Linked DNA regions of Homo sapiens: regions 1 and 2 are each linked to region 3. The links come from fine-mapping of genetic effects on gene expression. A gene starts in region 3. Each other region holds a variant in brackets. All regions are shown on one strand. Distances are from middle to middle.

Region 1 (2,759 bases), 49 kb before region 3:
AAACCAGATCCCAAAGGAGCTACACTGTTAATACTATGCTTAATTGCCTCTTATTAATTTTTAGTAGGCAGTAGAAAGTACTGGTAAGATGAGTCTTAACTCTGATGCTAAAAGAAGCCAATATTTAAGATGCATTATAATATGTTACCTCATTGACTTAATTTCCATTTGTCTTCTCAAAACTAAGGAAGAAACAGAAGAAATTTTAAAGGACAGAGTGATTACAGCAAGATCAAGATGCAGTCCTATACAAATGCTAACAATTAACTATTGACAAAAAAAACCCAGTCATCAATATTGTAATTTTGTCTAACCTATTCGCAGATATTATAAAATGGATACACATTTCCTAGAAAATATTTTCTCATTTTATCTTTTCTAAAATAATTTTAATAAAGTCTTTACTTTGTATACACGTAAAATACCTATTATTTATTTTTAAGTATCTCAATTTTCTCAGCTGTTTGTTCTCTAAATTCAATCTATAATTTTAAACATTGAGATCTAATTTTTTTTTAAGAACTAGTCTGACTGTGGCTTGATATATGGGAACCACTAAATCTAATTGTGTTCCCCAGCGAAATTTTCTTATTTTTAAGTCAACACAGTTTTTATTTTTAAGTAGTATAACACAGAAGAGTCCATTTTGAATCCAAGTTCCACTAAATAGCTATTAGTGATCTTGACCAAGTCACTTACTTGCTCAGCCACAGTTTCTTCATTTTTAAAATGAGGCAAAAACCATACTTCACAGGCCATGTGAATGTTGATGTAAATAAGAGACTGTATCAAATCACCTATAGTACAACGTGTAGTATACACAGGTCTTCCATAAAAGTTCACTAATAAATGGTCCCTCAGTCATTCTGTTTGGTTTGTCTGGTTGGTTCAAATTTCACAGAGAAGTGGCATACGGTAGTGGTTAACATGGTTAACAGGACAGGGTCTGCAGCATGCCCGCCTGCATTCAAACCTCAGCTCCACCTCTTACTACATGGGTTGCCTTGAGAAGTTACTCAATTTCTCTAAGCTTCAGATGCCAAATCTTTAAAATACTGGACTAATAATAAAGCTCATAAACTTGTAAAGATTAAGAGATAACACATATGAAGTATTTGGCCTAGTAATCTGCACATGTGCTCAATGTTGGCCATTATTATTACCGTTACTTAATATTAAAAACTGTAAAATAATGCAATACCCATTACTTAAGTGATAATCATTACTTAATATTAAAAACTGTAAAATAATGAGTATAAAAATACTCACAACACATGCACTCAAGTTGCTGTTAAGTCTGCATAAAAGACAAATACCAGAAACTCAGCTTATCAGCCTACTGCAAAGGCCTCAGCCAGAGCTACCTCACTAGCCTAACTGGCTATATCCAACCACATTCTCAACTACTCAACTTAAGATACCCTACAGGTATCTCAAAACCCAACATTTTCTTAAACCAAACACACCAAGCCTGTTCCTTTTCTGTACCAGCCACTGTTCACCTTTACCCTAAGCATTGCAA[C/T]AGCCCCCTAACTGGTCTCAGCAGGCACTTTTATTTCCCTCCAGTGCAATTTCCTCATTTTCATTACAGCAACCTTTTAACGTGCCAATATAATCATGTCACTTATCACTGTTCTTAAAAGCCCAAGCCTTTAACATGGCCTGTAAGGCTCTGCCTTATCCTGTCACTCCTCTACTCATGGAACTCCTCATTCCATGCCACACTTCCTCTTGCCCAGCAAGCTTCTTGACACAAGCTGTTATGTACTTAGAAAGCTCCTAACTCCTTTCTGTTTCAGGGCTTTCATACATACTACCACCTTGCTCTCTCTCAGTAGCTCTTATCCCAAGCCCTTCTCCTTACTGACAGTCCTACCCATCCTTTGTGTCTCAGTATTACCATTATTTCCTCAAGGAAATGTTCCCTAACATCCAAACTATGTTAGGATTTCTAATGCACTTTCCTAACAGACTGTACTTCTCTCTTATGGCATTTACCTCAACTGTAATTACTTCCTTATACAATTAAATGTTTGATTTCTTTTCCCCCAACCAAACTGTAACCAAGGGAGAAGATCAAGTCTGTTGTATTTACTCCTATAACCTCAGCTGCTACCATAGTTGCTTAACAAATGAAAGCAAAAGTCAAAGTATGAGATTTCACAATCCCAGGCTATTGGACATTCTCTAAGAACCAATTTTTTGGAGTTATAAGTTATTGTTGGGCTTGGCGCGGTGACTCACGCCTGTGATCCCAGCACTTTGGGACGGTGAGGTGAGGGATCACTTGAGCTCAGAAGTTCAAGACCAGCCTGAGCAACATAGTGAGACCTCATCTCCAAAAAAAAAGAAGTTATTCTTCACTGAACTGCAGAAGGGAAGGTAACTTAATATTTATTAAATATCTTCTACATTTATCAGTAGCTGTGTTAGACCTTAATATATATTATCTCATGTAACAGTAACAATAACCCTGTGAGGTAGATGGCATCTGTTCCACTTTCTAAATGAAGCAACTGCGAGTAAAAACAATCAGTACTCACCCAAAGTCACACTAGGAGGCAGAGTTGAAATTTTGGCCCTAATATCATGTCTTTTTCCATAACAGTACATTATCACCACCGGAACTATTTAAATAGTGGTTAAAAATGCCACTGATGTGATAAAACCTTCAAGGAGCCATCTAACCCCAATTTCATGAGTTTATGGTACTTTTCAGTAGTAGAATATTAAAACAATTTCTACTAAGTTGTGTATGG
Region 2 (2,759 bases), 91 kb after region 3:
TTTTTCAGCTTAAGAAAGGCCACAGGTTGGGCCAGTGGGGCCCGCGAACCCCCTCGGTGCCCCTAGGTAATGCTATCTGGGGTGGGGAGGGAGGGGAAGTAGAGAGTGATTGACAGTAGAGGTGAGGCACTCCTTGTGGAGGTGGTGGGGCAAGGGAAGGGGACCTCCGGACAGGGGGTCTGAACCCTCCTTCCACCACTCTCCAGCTCTGTGGCTTTGGACAAGTGACTCGCCCTCTCTGAGCCTCTGTTTCTTCATGCACTCATTCATTTCCTGGGTATCGCGTCTGTGCCAGGGCTAGGCCACCCCATTGGCGCTTAGGTTCTAGACATTACACAGTCAACACAGCCCTGTGCCTCTAGAGCACGTCCAGTGGTGGGTGAAAACCAAGCAGAGGACAGAGTTTGGTTCAGGCCAGAACCACACGGCCGTCAGTGAGCTAGGCCAGGGCTGGGCAGACGAGGGGTCCAGCACAGAAGACTGAAGAGGTGCAGCCAGGGAGGCAGGAGGGACCCAGGGAGAGTGACAAGAAAGGGGAGAATGCACACCCCACACAGTGGGAGCTCAGGACATGTCGCTGCTGCTGTTATTATTTGATCGCTGTCAGTGGGCGTGGCAGTATGCTTGGGGCGAGGATGCTGAAGGGAAGGGAAAAGAAGAGCTGGAGGAGGGTGGCTTCGCAGCCAGGGTAAATAGCACAGCCAGATGGCTGCCATCATTTCCCGCCACTCCAGTCGCCCTCCTGCCTCCAAGTCACAGGCAGGCTTCACTTTGCGCCATGACCCGAAGGTCAGCAGGCTGGGGTTTCACAAGTGGGCGTTCCAGGTCCGGGGCCCGCACAGGGAGCACTCCGTCCATGGTCAGGCCTCCAAGTTCCCATCCAGGAGCAGCTGCCGGAGCTCTGGCCCATCCCAGGGGGCCCCAGCTGCTGTCAGCCTGGAGTGGGTCAGAGTGTGGGGGTGAGAGAGGCAGGCCCACCGGGGACAGGGGCAGCTGTCCTTGCCCTAAGGATCTGAGTCACACTCGGGCCAGGGAGCCACGGCCAGGGGCACTCCAGGCTCTGCGGGGGGGGCGTGCAGAAGGTGTGGTGTGTATAGTCACACATGCATATGTCAATGTAGTGTATGCGTATACTGTACGTATATGTGATTCTTTTATCGGTATATTCATAGGTTTATTGAATTTCCATATCCTAGATAGTGGCTATCGTTTATCACCTTTTTCTAAGCAGGGAGAAACAAGACTCAGAGAAGTCCAAAGAAACTAAGCCGAGAAGCAGACAGCAGAACAAAATTTCAAGCCCCACGTTCTGCGCCTTCGGGCAACGGCCATGAAACAAGAGGTCACAGCCGCGGAATGGCTTGAGCCCCAGCTCTCATCACAGATTTCGTTATGCTCCAATGGTAGAAACAAAGGGAAGGTTTTGTGTCTCCTGTTTTTAAGGTTGAGAGAGAGCCATAGAAGGGGACAGAGCTTAAACAAGGCCCCCTCCTGCCTTTCTCCTGCGTAGGCAATGCTGGCCCAGTGGCCCCATCCACTGGGTGTCCCTGTGCCCTGGGCTCCTGGAGGAACCCTGCTGACCAGAGGAGCTCCCCGAAAAGCCCAC[A/C]CTCAGCACTTTTCACCCCCTTCCCTTCCCCTTTCACTTCCTGACACTATTTGGGGCTGTGTCTGCCTCCTCCAAGGGCACAGCGTTCCTCACTCATCTGGGCGTCCCAGGGTGCCAGGCACGATGGCCTGCGATGGGGGCTCACTCTGGTCACTCACCTTTGTATCCACAGGGAAATGGGGAAGCTCTGCAAACCCGGGCCAGGGCACAGCTTGGACAATCTGTCACCAGTGTGCAGAGTCAGCTGAGAAACACAATCCTGCCCAGGCTTTCTGTGGCTGCGGCCAAGAGGGTAGGGCTGCTGGGCTGAAGGCTGTCAAGTGACTGGGCAAAAAAAGCCAGCCTCAGCCTGCATGGCCGCAGCAGTCCATCCTGCAACAGAATAATTCCTCTTAGTGGGAACAGGCCTCCCACGCTTATCACAAAGCGCGGGCTGCCTTTCCAATGCGGCTGGAGGAGATTTACAAAAAGAAAAGGAAGTCGCCCTTACATCTTGGGGAAGTTTAAAGACACCTGGAGAATGAAATCTTGGATTTTACTTTCCTGAAAGGCTGAGGCTAGGCATAATTCTCTGCCTTTGTTCCCCTCCTTTGTCTTGGTTAAATGTTCCTGGCCATACTGTACCTGTGGTTTTATTGTCGTCCTTTTTGGGAACAAGCAGGATATAAATCAGTCAGTGAAATTTTAGAATGTAGCTCTTTGGTCTAGCATCTAAGTAGATAAAGAAGAAACGGGCACTTAATAAGTGCCTCTGGAGGCTTGTGATTTGCATGGGGCTCCCAATGAAAGGTAAAGTCTTTGCTTAGAGGTTACACACACCGAATGCAGGGTGGTCCTCAGGCCTCTGGTCACAGCATGCACAGTGCTGGTGCCTCGATCTGCAAACCTGGTGCGCGCAGCCGCTGGGGACCATCTGCCCCAAGGCCACCCCAGGACTTATCAGAAAGGAGAAGAGTTGGCCGGGCGCGGTGGCCTGGTGATCACACCTGTAATCCCAGCACTTTGGGAGGCCGAGGCCGGTGGATCACGAGGTCAGGAGTTCAAGACCAGCCTGGCCAAGAGGGTGAAACCCCGTCGCTATGAAAAACACAAAAATTAGCTGGGTGTGGTGGTGGGTGCCTGTAATCCCAGCTGCTCAGAAGGCTGAGGCAGA
Region 3 (2,759 bases):
TCCCAATCTCACTGTAAACTAAAACGCAGGTTAACACTATGTTATATTCAAGCTACACACGGTTCCCTGCTGGACCATAACAGGAGGCTCGCTTCACAGCTCCGGAATCTATTTCGGATGTGAGCAACAATTCTATAGTTACACTTTTAAAGAAAAACTGTTTTCTTATTCAGGATTGCTCACCTTTTCCAAACTTGTTTGCACTATCTCACTTACTTTAACCCTCACAGCTCAAAGGCATGAAATCGAGCCAAAAAGCAAAGTTTCTAACACAAAAAATATTTTCTGCGAGCTGGGATCTAGCCGGATGGCAGGGGTTCAGCCAGCGGTTCCCTGTGCAGCCCCTCTGTCCCCGCGACGTCTCCCCGCACGATCGGGCGTCCGCAACCGCAGGTGTCCGCCCCAAACACCGACCCCGCCACTGACATCTACACACTCACAGAATTCGTACCTAAGCGTTCCACCCCGTTAGACCAATCTTCTCCCAAAGCAGAAGTGGGGGAACTTCTTCAAGTCCAACAGGGCAGAAGGCCCCCCGCACTTGGGGCTAATCCCTTCGGGGAGACCCCCGGGCTTGGAGGGAAAAGGGGAAGGAAAGGGCCCTCAGAGCGCACCTTCTCCGGGGTCTCCCGAGAACTCCTTCAACTTTCAAGGAGGCGACGTCCACCACCGCCCCCCGGCCCCAAGGGGTGCGCGCCCGGGGAGGCTGCTCGCCACCAGCCCGCGCGACTGAGCTCCCCTCGGCCCGCCCAGCCGAGCCCCATCCAGCCCCACCGGCCCGCCCTCAGGGCACCCCGCCCCCACCTCCCCGGGCGCCTAGCTCCTCAGCGCCGACCCCGACCCGACCACCCCTCGCCGCCTCCCAGCACCCTACCCGCCTCCCAGCACCCTACCCGCCCCGCCAATGCGCGAACGCGACCCTGGCCCCCTCCAAGCCGGACACGGCCTCGTCCAGGGGTCCCCGGAGCCCCCCGGGCGACCCTCTCGGCCGCGCCGTCCCCCGCCCCAGCACCTCCACCCCAACCCCTACTCGGTCCCCTAAGCGAGACGCCGCCCCCCTCCAGCACTACCGGCGTCGCGGACTGAGCCCCGCTGCCCGCGGCCCTCACCGTATCTCCGGAGCAGCTGGCGGGCGCGCACACGCCGCAGCCCGGGCCCGCCACCAGCGCTTCGCGCCGCCCGGAGCCGCCTCTTTCAGCCCGGGACTCGCCGGGACATCCGCGCACGGATCCCCACACCGGGGCTATTTTTAGGAGACAAGCCTCGGCCAGACCGGAACTCGTTCTGTGCTGCGCGTGCGCACTACCTCCGCCGCCTCGGTGTCCCTCCGCAGCCCTGCCTCCCCTCCCTCCTGGGTTCCCTTCCTCGCTTCTCCCCATCAGTTTCTTTTCAGGACTGAATTATCCTCTCGGTGGGTTCTAGAGTAATTGGAATGGGAAAGACAAGGGTAGGGCAAAGAGAGTCACGGTGCTTGGAAGCGGGCGCTATTCCACAAGGACGTGGGGGCGGACTATGTTTTTCCGGGTGGGTGAGGAGACGATCACCTGGCACAGGAAGAAGATGACGGCGGCTTGGCGCCGGGGCCGCGGGTTGGAGCTCGCTTTCCTCTGAAGGACCGTGTTCCCCTGGAAGGGATACTGGTCACTTGATGAGGGCCCGGGCGCCTCCCAGGGCGGGGCGGCCCGGCGGCGTCGCGCCCTGCCGCCCCCGCTCCGCCGCTCAGCCGCCGCCACCTCCCTGACCAGCCCCCGGGAGCCCAGGCCGGGAGCGGCCCGGTGACGCGGCGCGTGGCAAATCGCCGCGCGTGGCCTCCAGGGCAGCCAACCCGGGCGGTGGGGCGGCGCGGCGCGACGGGACTGGGCGGGGCTCCCGGGGCGGGGGCGGGGCGCGAGGCCGGCTGCCGCCCGGAGTCCGGGGCCGGGCGGGTCCTTCGGGACGCCCGGGTCAGCCTCCTCCCTCCCTCCCTCGAGGCGCCCTTGGCCTCCCCGGGTGTCGGCTCGCCACGCCCGCATTGTGGCCAGGGCCGCACCTGTGCTCGCCCCGGGGCACGGGCAGGTCACCCTCAGGAGCAAGCACAAGGGGACTCTGGGACCCGGGCCCGGAGAGAAAGGGACTTGAAGGGGTCTCGAGGGCGAGAAGGCCCTTTCGGACTGGACAGCCGAGCTCCCCAGGTCCCAGGACAGTAGCAACCTCCTTATCGTGACTTAATAGTTTCTAGGATGCCTGGGGCGGTGAACTATGTGATGGACATTTTGCATATGACAGCTTATGTAATACTTACAAGGCCCCATGAAGCAGATTCAGTTTCTATTCCCATTTTACAGATGAGGAAAGGGAAGCTGAGCGCTAAAGTGACCTGTCAGGGTCACAGCTTCAGAGTAGGGCCCTGAGGACTTGAACTCCTGACCACTCTGCATGTTGCCTTTTCTGAGATAGGTGCAAAGGGGATAGGCTTGGGACAGCTGTTGTGTTTTCTGGGGCTACTGATTATGTTTATCGAGGTCTTTAGGAGATGAGCCATTGTTGGCCCTCTCATCCTGAAAGCCGCTCACCTCTGAAGAGTTTTTCGGGGCCACAGTGCCTGCATGTGCCCCCAGAGGTGCCTGTGTAATGGACACGAAGCCAAATGGTTGTTTGCATTTGAAGATGAGAAATTCAATCCCGCAGCACTTAAAACAAAGTGGTTGGGGTGGGTGAGCAGATGAGCAGAGGCTGTGAGTGGAGGAACTGGGAAGTTACAAAGGAAGCCAGAGACTGGC

Evidence for each region. PIP is the estimated chance that this variant, and not a neighbour inherited with it, causes the effect.
Region 1: its variant is fine-mapped to the expression of MEF2A in whole blood (TOPMed, PIP above 0.99).
Region 2: its variant is fine-mapped to the expression of MEF2A in monocytes (TOPMed, PIP above 0.99).

The regions. Positions count from the first base shown.
Region 1 is chr15:99,613,854-99,616,612 of GRCh38, reverse strand. The region is part of intron 2 of MEF2A (myocyte enhancer factor 2A); the gene reads right to left. Among named protein-coding and RNA genes, the nearest start is that of MEF2A, 49 kb to the right of the region's middle. RefSeq lists an enhancer at 1,410-1,459. The variant C/T (reference allele first, on the strand shown) is at 1,523.
Region 2 is chr15:99,473,280-99,476,038 of GRCh38, reverse strand. No RefSeq gene overlaps it. Among named protein-coding and RNA genes, the nearest start is that of LINC03080, 39 kb to the right of the region's middle. RefSeq lists a silencer at 641-935 and enhancers at 363-1,038, 1,039-1,715. The variant A/C (reference allele first, on the strand shown) is at 1,607.
Region 3 is chr15:99,564,455-99,567,213 of GRCh38, reverse strand. MEF2A (myocyte enhancer factor 2A) reads right to left here and starts at 1,230. Exons shown (of 12, transcript NM_001319206.4): 1 at 1,110-1,230. RefSeq lists silencers at 730-779, 1,620-2,059 and enhancers at 1-932, 933-1,908.